2 separate regions of the Homo sapiens genome follow, and region 2 is linked to region 1. Evidence: fine-mapped expression QTL. A gene starts in region 1. The other region holds a variant in brackets. All regions are shown on one strand. Distances are between the middles of the regions. Region 1 holds the start of RORA-AS1 (RORA antisense RNA 1). Region 2 overlaps RORA (RAR related orphan receptor A).

The links.
Region 2: its variant is fine-mapped to the expression of RORA-AS1 in testis (GTEx, PIP above 0.99).

Annotation. Positions count from the first base shown.
Region 1 is chr15:60,476,649-60,482,026 of GRCh38, reverse strand. RORA-AS1 (RORA antisense RNA 1) reads right to left here and starts at 2,849. Exons shown (of 6, transcript NR_120342.1): 1 at 2,629-2,849. ICE2 (interactor of little elongation complex ELL subunit 2) reads left to right here and starts at 2,885. Exons shown (of 16, transcript NM_024611.6): 1 at 2,885-3,024; 2 at 3,958-4,090. The coding sequence starts at 4,050. RefSeq lists enhancers at 3,084-3,611, 3,934-4,053.
Region 2 is chr15:60,527,896-60,533,283 of GRCh38, reverse strand. It overlaps RORA (RAR related orphan receptor A), which reads left to right. Exons shown (of 11, transcript NM_134261.3): 3 at 1,433-1,518. All of the region lies in intron 3 of RORA-AS1 (RORA antisense RNA 1), which reads right to left. Among named protein-coding and RNA genes, the nearest start is that of RORA-AS1, 51 kb to the right of the region's middle. The variant G/A (reference allele first, on the strand shown) is at 3,225.

The DNA of each region.
Region 1 (5,378 bases):
ATTTTGGGAAGATGCACAATGCACACGTTGGCAAGAATTATGAGACCTGAGTTTTAGTATCAGTTTTATCATTGATCATGTGATGTTGGAAAAGTCACTTGACAATCTTGAAACGAGCCCATTTCCTTGTAAGGAAAACAAGAGGGTTGGACTAGATAATCTCCAAATCGTGTTCTGATTCTAAAAATTCTGATTCTGTGTGCTATCTTGCAACCATTGAAACTCAGATATACCAGTTCAGAGCATACTGTTTGGTGATGATCTGAAATCTCAACACAGAGCTGTATGGTAATGCTACCATATCACACTACCATGGGCAGGTACCTCCCAGCAGCATGAGCTCTTAAACAATTAGAGCAGTTCCTTCAGGCCAGGTCAGGTGTCCCCAACTCTTCCTGACTGCATGCTTTGTGAGACAGTACCCAACACATGAACTTTTACGCTGCCTTTGTCCTACACAAGCCATCCACATCACTTACCTAATAAGAAATACTATCTGCAGCCAGGCATGGTGGCTCACGCCTGTAATCCCAGCATTTTGGGAGGCCGAGGTGGGCGGATCACGAGATCAGGAGTTCAAGACCAGCCTAACCAACATGGTGAAACCCTGTCTCTACTAAAAATACAAAAATTAGCCGGGCGTGGTGGTATGCACCTGTTATCCCAGCTACTCAGGAGGCTGAGGCAGGAGAATCGCTTGAACCCGAGAGGCAGAGGTTGCAGTGAGCCAAGATCGCCCCACTATACTCCAGCCTGGGCGACAGAGGGAGACTCCATCTCAAAAAAAAAAAAAAAAAGAAAAGAAAAGAAAAAAGAAAAAGAAAAAAAGAAATGCTATCTGCACAGTGCCAGGCATTGTAGTGGTTGATTTTTTTAAGCATTCACAAACACTGTCTCCTAACTGGCCTCCTCCCTTCAATGAATTCCGTAGGTTGCCAGGTGAACTTTCCTGAAGCACAGCCAGCCAGTTCTGATTGTGTCATTATGTAAGCTTTTTTGTTTGTTTGTTTCCTAGCATTTTATTTCTTATGCAATAAAGTCAAACTTCCTTAGTCTGGCTTATAAAATCTTACGTGTTCTAGCTTCAACCAGTTTTTCCAACCCCTTTTCCTCTACTACTCTTCAGAGACCTTGCATTCCAGGCAAAATAAACTACCTATGGTTTCCTGTAGCATATTTTTTACATTAACATAATTTCTAACAATATTCTAAATCAGTCTAAAATGTCAGCCAGGGGTAGTGGCTCACACCTGTAATCCCAGCACTTAGGGAGGCCAAGGTGGGCAGATCACTTGAGGTCAAGAGTTAAAGATCACCCTGGCAAACCCCATCTCTACTAAAAAAAAAATACAAAAATTAGCCAAGTGTGGTGGCATGCACTTGTAGTCCCAGCTACTAGGGAGACTGACGCAGGAGAATCGCTTGAACCCAGGTGGCAGAAGTTGCAGTGAGCTGAGATCACACCACTGCACTCCAGTCTGGGAGACTCTGTCTTAAAATAAAATGTAGAACATGCTTCCCTAATAGCACACACTAGATTCTGTTTATGCAATAAGTTTATGCAGTTCCTTGTATTAAAAAAAATTATAGGAGGCCATTGTTTAGAACTTCTGCACTAGACCCCAAGAGACCAGACTAAAATAAAAATGGTATCACTCAGGCTCACCACACCGAAACTGAGTTATGTGGCCCTCCAAGAAATCAGGAGACAGAGGTAACAGGCCAGTTTCAATTTTCAATCAGCAAGATAATGAATTTCCTCTGTTTTAGTCCCTACAGCAAAGAGTAACTTGAAGTAACCTGATGTTAACCAATCAGTTATCTTTCTATTGTACTGTCTGTCTCCACCTTACCAGGAAAGTAACTTTGAAATGATCAATCTGCTTTTTGTTCTTTGTTTCTACTTTCTACAGACCTTTTTTCTGTCCGTAATGCCAACCTCCTCTGTTCCACTCATTGGGACACTCATTCCATTTTATGGAATGAAGTGTTGCCTGATTCCAGAATCGCAATAAGGCCAACTGAGATCTTTAGATGTGTCAAATTTTTGTCTTTTGACACTTGTGCTGGTCTGTCTAGAACGCCCTTTCTCTTCATTCCACATACCCACATTCTTCAAATGAGCTCACACGGCAGGTGCTCAGTGCAGCAACTGACATGTAAGTACTCAATACTATTCAAAACTGCGTTTTGTCCCTCACACTAGCTATTCCTCTCCCTCTAACCTCAATCTATACACCTTTCTTATGTAGTTTATTACTTTCTATTGTATTTAATGTAAATGTCTTAGATTGCCAGAGATCCAAAGCACTGGAAAAATCAGTATTCAGTCTTAGTCCATGTGTACCCAGCACCAAGCACAAAGTACTCTGTTTACGGTCAATAAATCTTTCCGTAATGGATGAGAACAAAACTAGTGTTTGAACTCACAGCTAAAACTGGATGGGGAGTGGAGCGGAGGTGAAGGAGCACTTAATGAGGCCCTACTATGTGCCAGGTACTGTGCAGAGCACAGCTTCTTCCTTTGTTTCATTTAATCCTTTCCAAAAAACCGTATGATGCAGCAGTAACAATTTCATCTCCATTTTACATATGAGGAGTTTGGGTTACGGAAGTCAGGAAACTTGCCTGAGGTCACAACCAAGTATGTTTGGGTCTTTCCAGTACCGCACTTGTCGCTTGTCCGCCTTCCAATTTATCACTCCCCTCCTCTCCCCGACGAAGGTCGAGGACTTTCTAGGAAAACACGCAGTCTCCAACCACTTCCGCCTGGCGAGCCCAGTCTCGCACTTCGCTGCCAGAACCACAGCGAGCGCTTGTGGCGGGAGGAAAGGAGGGGAGCAGCCGTCAAGACGCAAGGCCCCGCCCACTATGTCGCTGAGACGTCATCACGCAGGGCCGAGTCGGCGCGGCCACATCCTTTAAATATGGTCTTTTTTGGGCGCGCGCGACAATGTGAGGAGTGGGGTGGAGCGTGTGTGGTGTGTGGCTGCGGCCTGGGCAAGAGCCGCCGCGGACCATGAGGTGGGCGGAAAGGCTGTGTTGCAGCCCAGACGCGGACGGGAGGGCGCTGCCGGGCCAGCGGGCGTGCTCATGCAGGGGCGGGAGGAGGGAACATGGCGGCCGGGCCAGGACCCTTTGCTCCTGGCTCTGCGCGGCTCCTACCCCTGCTTTGCTTGCCCTTTTACCTGCTTTTCTGGAACCTTGTTTCCCCTCTCTTTGCGTCCCCTTTCCCTCAGCCGTTTCTTTTGCCTTCCTCGACTATTCCCCCCCAGCTCCACACTGGGTCGAAGTGTGAGAGGTAGATTAAGTGGGAGCCGGTCGGGCCCGTTCGGTGTCGAGAGACCGACTCCTAAATTTGATTAGGTTCTCGCAGGTCACTTTATCAGTCTGCCTGGGGTCACAGGAGAAGTACTGAACATGAGAGATCAAGCCTGATTTGTAGTCCTGATGATGTCTGTAAGTGATCTTGTGAAATGTCACTTAAGTTGACCTCAAGTCTTCTCAAATGTGAGGTTCTTTGTGAAAGGCCTAAGATTCCTGATATCGAGGTAGCTTTTGTCATAAAGTGCCTGCCAGAATCTGCCCCATAACAAAGCATGGTCGGGAAAACAAAAGATTTATTTTGGCAGTAAGGGAATGGAAAACTGAGTTGACTTCCCGTTCCATGCCATCAAGTGGCCTAGTATGTAAGCAATGAGAACACCGTTCTGTTTCAGCTCTTATTTCCATAGTGAGTGTCCTGAGAGTAACACTCCCGGCGTAGATTAAATGGAAAAGGGCTCGTCCTGTATCGTCATTGCTGCTCTGCTACAAAGAACCTTGGGTCTGCTGTATTCTGTTTTAGGTGCCACAGTCTGTTGAGGGTAGATGTTTAGGGAGAGATTCTTCCTCACCTAATAGCACCTGGCCTAGCCAATCACTTGCTTTTGATCTTGGCCTTTTGTTTTTACTCAGCTGAGTAAGTTCTGGAGGGATCCTGCCTCTTGGAGCCTTCGCAGCCAGGCAGCTGTGAACTGTGAGCTAGAGTGAAGCAGAAATCTAGGAAGATGAGCTCCAAGATGGTCATAAGTGAACCAGGACTGAATTGGTGAGTTGTAGCCACTTTGTAATCCACTGAAGAGGAGTGTAGTGGGGCTGATGGTTGACATAAGAAAATAGATTTCTGGCATAGAGAGATTTGGAGGAAACAGAAAATACAAGTTTAGGGTCTCAGAATTTACCCTATCCTCATCTTCACATACGGAATGCTAGAGTTATGGCTGACTGTACTTCCACTCCTATAGTGGAACAACACAGTTCAGCACTCAAATTATTTTTAGGTATAATTCCCTCAGGTATTTATTGTTGGTCTCCTGTGAAGGAGAGATACTGGAATTTTCTTGAGTCCAAGAACCTTGGCCCATTTCCATACAAGTAATAAAAAAGACCCTCTTTAAGAATAGACATGCTTTTTGTTATATTGAAATCTATATCAAATGATATAAATGCATAGACTGTATTTTAAAAGTGTATGAGAACTTTGCAAATAGAGAACCTGGTTAAATAATATAGTGGTTTTGTAGCCATCTAGCTAATACATGTGCTGCTTTAGTTCATTTTAACACACATTTACTAAGCCAGCCAAGGAGGATCAAATGTTATAAATGGTTACAAAGAGTATTAAAATAGTACCTGACTCAGACTATTAAGTCAGTATGTTCATTGAGTATTTGTTTATTGCTAACAACACTCCCATCCCCAGGGAGCTCACAATCCCTGAGACCCTTTACTTTGTTTTTATATGATGTGCAGAAACTTAAGAATTTATTGAGATGTCACAGATACAATACCACGACAAGGTAATAAGAAACTATACTGATGCATAGCAAATAAGACTTTCTAATTTTACCATTAATACCTTAATATAGTTTTTTGGATAAATGCCTTTAAGAACAGTTTAAAAAGGAGAAGAGTATGGAGCAAATATGCTAGAATTTCCTATCTGGGCACTAGGACACCCAGAAGTTACCATTTGATTAGGTAAGAGGTATGCACATTTGCATTCCTTGCCAGTGCTATAAAGTATGCATTCAGATGTAGCACAGATGCTCTTGTATACCACCGGCATTGTGGAACTAGTTGTGGTTTAGAACCTTTGCACAATATTGTAGCCCTTGGAATTATCCTTTTCCACGGAATTTTACTGACCTTTGTCCTCCCTAGTAACGTTAATGGATTCAGTGTTTTCAAGTTTTTAATTCCTTCATTCAAACAGCATTTTTGGATGCCTAACTATATGGAAAGCATTGAATATAATATGTTAGTCTCTAAATTAATTATGGTGTTATGAAAAATCATATCACCTTTGAGGTGGTTTTAGCAAACCAGTTATCCCA
Region 2 (5,388 bases), 51 kb before region 1:
AATCTCTAAATTTGGACAGCAAAGAAACTCAGTATGCAAGCACTAAAAAAATGATGGATAGCTTTTAGAATAGCTTGCACTCCCTAAAAGTCACCACAGTACTTGTATTAGGCCCTGAGAAAGGGAGTTAGCAGTACACATGGTTTATAATGAGGTTAAATCCAATAGTTTCATGTGTGCTCTAAGTATCGAATGCAACATCACCTTAAATCCAAAGTAAGTGGTTGTGAAATCATCCCAGGATATGGGATTACATTAGAAGAAAGAGTGGGCTGTGTGTCTCTGTGTGGTACTTACACTATGTGACATATTCTTTGGACAAAGAAATTACTCTGTGTAAGGTCTGGGGCTAGGTAAGGGCTGTACAGAAATGAAATAGACTTGGGCACTTGCAGTTGTGTTTGTGTGTGTAACTCAGTAGGTAATCTAACATGATACCCAGTAGTGAAAACCATGGAAAATGAATTTAGCGTAATGACACATTCCAGGTAAACTGGTGACTGTTCCCATCCTGTCTATACAGCTCAGCATTGGTCTTTATTTCACATATAAATTCTATTTAATAGTTGATCTAAGGATTTTCTTTTGCCTAATTATTCCTTATTTTTTATCCTTAATTATGCTCTTTTTAACTCTGAGGTATAATGTGTTTGCTTAGAAATGTGCTTTGCCTTATTTGAGAACTTTGGTGTGATACATGTTATTTGCGGGTCTTCCAGCATGAGGCATCTTTAAGTAATCAGTTGGGTAGAAACACATGCCCTCTGTACCAGGAACTAAATTTCCAGTGTAAAGAACTCAGAAGCAACACATCCTATTTGTCAGGATTCATCATTATTAAATTCAAACAAGATATTAACTCTATGGTTGAAAGGTTCTGATTGTACACAAATGGACTAATTTTTAACACATGGCAACTGCGTTAATTTTTTAAAAGATAAGGAATTCTTATCATATGTAACTGATTAATATTTTGAATTGAATCATTTTCCTAACTAGACCTGACTTTTTAGAGTGTATTTTTCTCTAGCAGTCAAGCTGTAATGCTCAGCCAAGACAGATTTATGATCTTTTAAAAATAATGATAGAAAATGAGATTGGAGGAAACATTTCAGTATCTGCTTTGCTCTGAGGCCTAAACTGCGAACTCTCCAGTTCTTGAAGGCTTTGAAATGCTGATTCCAGTCTTCTTGTGGGTTCTTAAACACCTTCTCAAATGACCCATTTTAATAACCCGAAAGCTATTATATAACGAGCAGCCATAATTTAGTCCAGGGCTCTAGGGGGACCCTCACAGTTCAGCAATGAATAGTTAATGCAGTATAATGTTTAGCAGGTTATTAGTTTTCACTATACAAATGCTGATCAGGGAACGCTTTTATAAGGTGTTTAAAAGAAAATGTAATTAACTGGTTGCGTGCTTCTGTTGCAGCTCAAATTGAAATTATTCCATGCAAGATCTGTGGAGACAAATCATCAGGAATCCATTATGGTGTCATTACATGTGAAGGCTGCAAGGTAAGCCTTTTTAATTGTTGTTGTTTCTATTAATGTTTGTTAGAATATATCTTTGTGATTTGTATGTCTCCACTTATGTCTTAAAATTCAACTCCTTAGAATTTTGAATGATAAGAAATTACAGGATAGAAGAAATATTTTGGTGTTAAATTACAATTAAAGAAGTTATATATATTTTTACTCCTTCCTTCAAAATAATAGGAGATTACAAAAAGGTATTTGAGCATTGCTTGTTTATCACTTTCAACCCCAGAGTTGAACTCATGAGCAATCTCTGTGGCAATCTTTTTTAAAAAAGAGCTAACTCCAGACTTCTACAATGTCCCTGTCATAAGCTTATAAAAAGACATCTCCAGTAAGTTTAATTGGAATGTCACTGAGTTGAGTCTTATTGTTAGCACACATAATGTTAACACATCTGGCAAAATTGTGGGAAAGCTATCAGGAAGACCTGAGTTCCAGTCCTATTGCCTCCACTTGTCCATATTGTTTTGAATGTGTCTTAATCTCTTTGTCACTCAGTTGCTTCATTTTTAAAGTGGGTATAACACCTGATCTTTCTACTGGTTAGGACTATTCCAAGAATAGAAGGAGAACCTGTACATAAAAAAGTCCTTACAAACAGAAAAGTGCTATTTAACTCTAAATATTATCAGTATTATTTCTGCTATGACTATTTTATTATTTCTGACCTTGGTCATGGGGCAATGTGTACAGCACATGCATAATGTGCAGATGAGAAACAGAGATGTTTATCCCAATAATTCAAGACCCCCCAAGCCCAGATTACCTCTGTTATTCAAATCTCAATTTATTAAGATTTAAATCCTCATGCTTATATTGGAAGGGCCTCGAGACAGCTTACAGGATAAAACAGTGCAAAATAAACAGGAGAGAAGCTATTTAAACATGCAGGAGGCCTTTGAGACAGCCGATTGCTACAACCAGGCCTGAATCAGCCCTAAGGCTTTTTGAGGCTGAGGCAAAAAATAAAATCCACGAATTTGGTTAGCTTTCCTTTCATGAAATTAGAAAATACAATGTTGTAAAATACAAAATCACCTATAGACACAAATGACTACTGAGAGACTTCAAGGAAATTAACCTTATAATTTCCTTAATTCTTCATTTTACTGTTAGTCATGGTAACATTTGCTAATTTGTACATGTACAGATGCTTCATGTTGATCCCATCTTAGCAAAGCTTCAGATTTCCGCATACTACAGAACCATCTATGCCCTTTACTTCCAAAATCTGCCCTCCCTCAAAATTAGTTGACTAATTAAATAAATTAAGCAAAATGAGAGGCCCGGTGTAGTGGTGTGTACCTGTAGTCCCAGCTACTCAGGGAAGACAGCTGCAGGTTTATCACTTGAGTCCAGGAGTTCAAGGTTACAGTGAGCTATGATCACACCACTGGACTCCAGCCTGGGCAATGGAGTGAGACCCTCTCTCCAAAAAAGTAAATAAAAATAATGAAAAAACAAAATGAAATAATCTGTCTGGTCTGTGCCATCCCAGGTTATAAGGTGAGAGTGATCTGCCTGTGACCACTGTCATCGCATTGATTTTTGGAGCTGATTTGGCTGACGTGGCCAGGTAGCCATTGCTTTTCACCCTCACCCTGTCTTGTGTTCTGCCTCCCAAATCTGTGTCCCTGGTAGACATGTCATGGCCTTTCTCAATAGAGGGTTTATAGACTGCA[G/A]TGCTTGCCTGCTGGGAGTTCCAGTGCTTTTTGTGCATTGCGTATCACCTGGGTGTCTTCTTAAATGGACAGGGTTCTAGGCAGCATCCCGGATACCAGTTCACCATTTGTCCCTTCATTCTGCCCAAAAAACTGATGGCTTCCTCTGAATCTGTCAGTAAGGCAAGTGATTATCTAGGAATTGACAGAAGTGATTATCTAGGAATGGAGTCTGGGGAAAGGACAAGGTGGGGGTAGGGGCTACTTCATATGAAATACCCCAACAATTTGGAAGATTAATTAACAACATGCTATTGAGTAAAACCTAAGTTGACTGAGTACCATGGCACAAACAATGTGAATTTTCTTTTTACTCTTAATATTTATCATGACAAAAATAAAAGCGATAAGAAAACAAAAGGTATCTATTATTCCAAAGTTGCCATTTTTCTAGATTCCCTTCCAGATCTTGTCTGCATACCTCCTCAGTGCCAAAGTGGTTTTCAGTTATCTGTGGCTCTGTTCCTCTGCTCTGTTGACTTTATCCAATGAAAACCACAAAATAAATAAAACATAATTTTATTAACAGATTGGGCCTATGCCTAGCCAGGGACTTGAACAATGTTTCATGTTTATATTTGATACATATACTCTTTGTTCTCCATTATAATTTCTCTCTGCTATAACTAACACTTTTATTCCTAGTTATAAAAATAGAAGTCAAAAGACTTCTATTTTTGCCATTTTATGTTAATTATTTATCATGTTCTAACCAGGTAAAGGTGGTTCTATCATGATCAATTGTAAATAACTTTGCTGAGATAGTGTAATTAAACATAAGAAAAATTTCACATTAGACATATCAAATAGATATCTAATGAGAGAAGAAAGGTGATCAGTCATCTTCTGAGCTAATCATTTTGTGAACGTATTTTAAATTGCATTTTTAAATTAACAAGCTGACACCATAAGAAACTAGAGGACCTGTTTAATTGCTGAAATAATTATTTTGGCACATAGTTGCTAAGCATTGCACATGAACAGCAAAAATGGTAGAAGCTTTAGTAGCTCTTTCTGTCATTTCTGGCTCTTCCTAGTTCATCCTCTCCCCAACCCCTTTGCTGTCTGTAGAGAGACAGCAGGTGCCATGCTTCTGCTCTGACTCTGGAACCAGACTGCCCGAGTTGAAATCCCAGCTCTGCTATTTACCAGCTTGAGCACCTATACCACTGCTCTGTGCCTCAGTTCCCCCATCTGTAAAATGAGGACTGTAATTGTAATAACTTCATAGGGTTGTCACATGCATTTAAGGAAAGTACCTGGAAGAATGCCAGATGCATCACAAGCACTTACTAAGTGTTAGCTGTTGTTATCATTGTCATTACTAGGCAGACTTCTTGGTGGCTTGGTAATGCTGCTCTGTATAGTCAGATATTATTTCTGGGACATCTATGGATATAGTCTTGATTGTTGTGACCATTTGCAATGTGTTATGTAGAATCTGCCAATAAAAAAGAATACTATGAGCACTCCCTTGGGACCAAGCACTATGTAAGCACTGTAAGGGATCCAAAGACATAGAAGACCACATCTTTCCCTCAAGCAGTTTATGGTCTAGTTGTAGAGATGAGGCCTGTGTAGGGAAAGCTAAATAGCAATGCAAGAACTAATATAGAGTAAGGCCACAATCTATGATATACATAAGAAGCACATATAGGCTGGGCACAGTGGCTCACACCTGTAGCCCCAGCAGTTTGGGAGGCTGAGCTGAGAGGAAGATGTGAGCACAAGAGTTCAAGACCAGCCTGAGCAACACAGCAAGACTCTGTCTCTACAAAAAAATTAAAAATAAAAAAAACTGGCTAGGCATGGTGGTGTTTGCCTGAAGTCCCAACTACTCGGAAGGCTGAAGCAGGAGGATTGCTTGAGCCCAGGAGTTCAAGGCTCCTGGTGAGCTATGATGGTGCCACTGCATTCCAGCCTGGCAACAGAGCAAGACCCCTGTCTCAAAAAAAAAGAAAAAAGAAGCACATATCCACTAGACAGCATACCTAGGTGGTCTAAAGGAGAGTTGGCCTAGCAAGGTTTCATTGAGGAGGAACCAACCGTGGGCTGGAGCTGAGGAAGGATTTTCCCAGTCAAGGTGGCTGGGAGGGCATTCTGTGCTGAGGAAGAAGGAGAACAA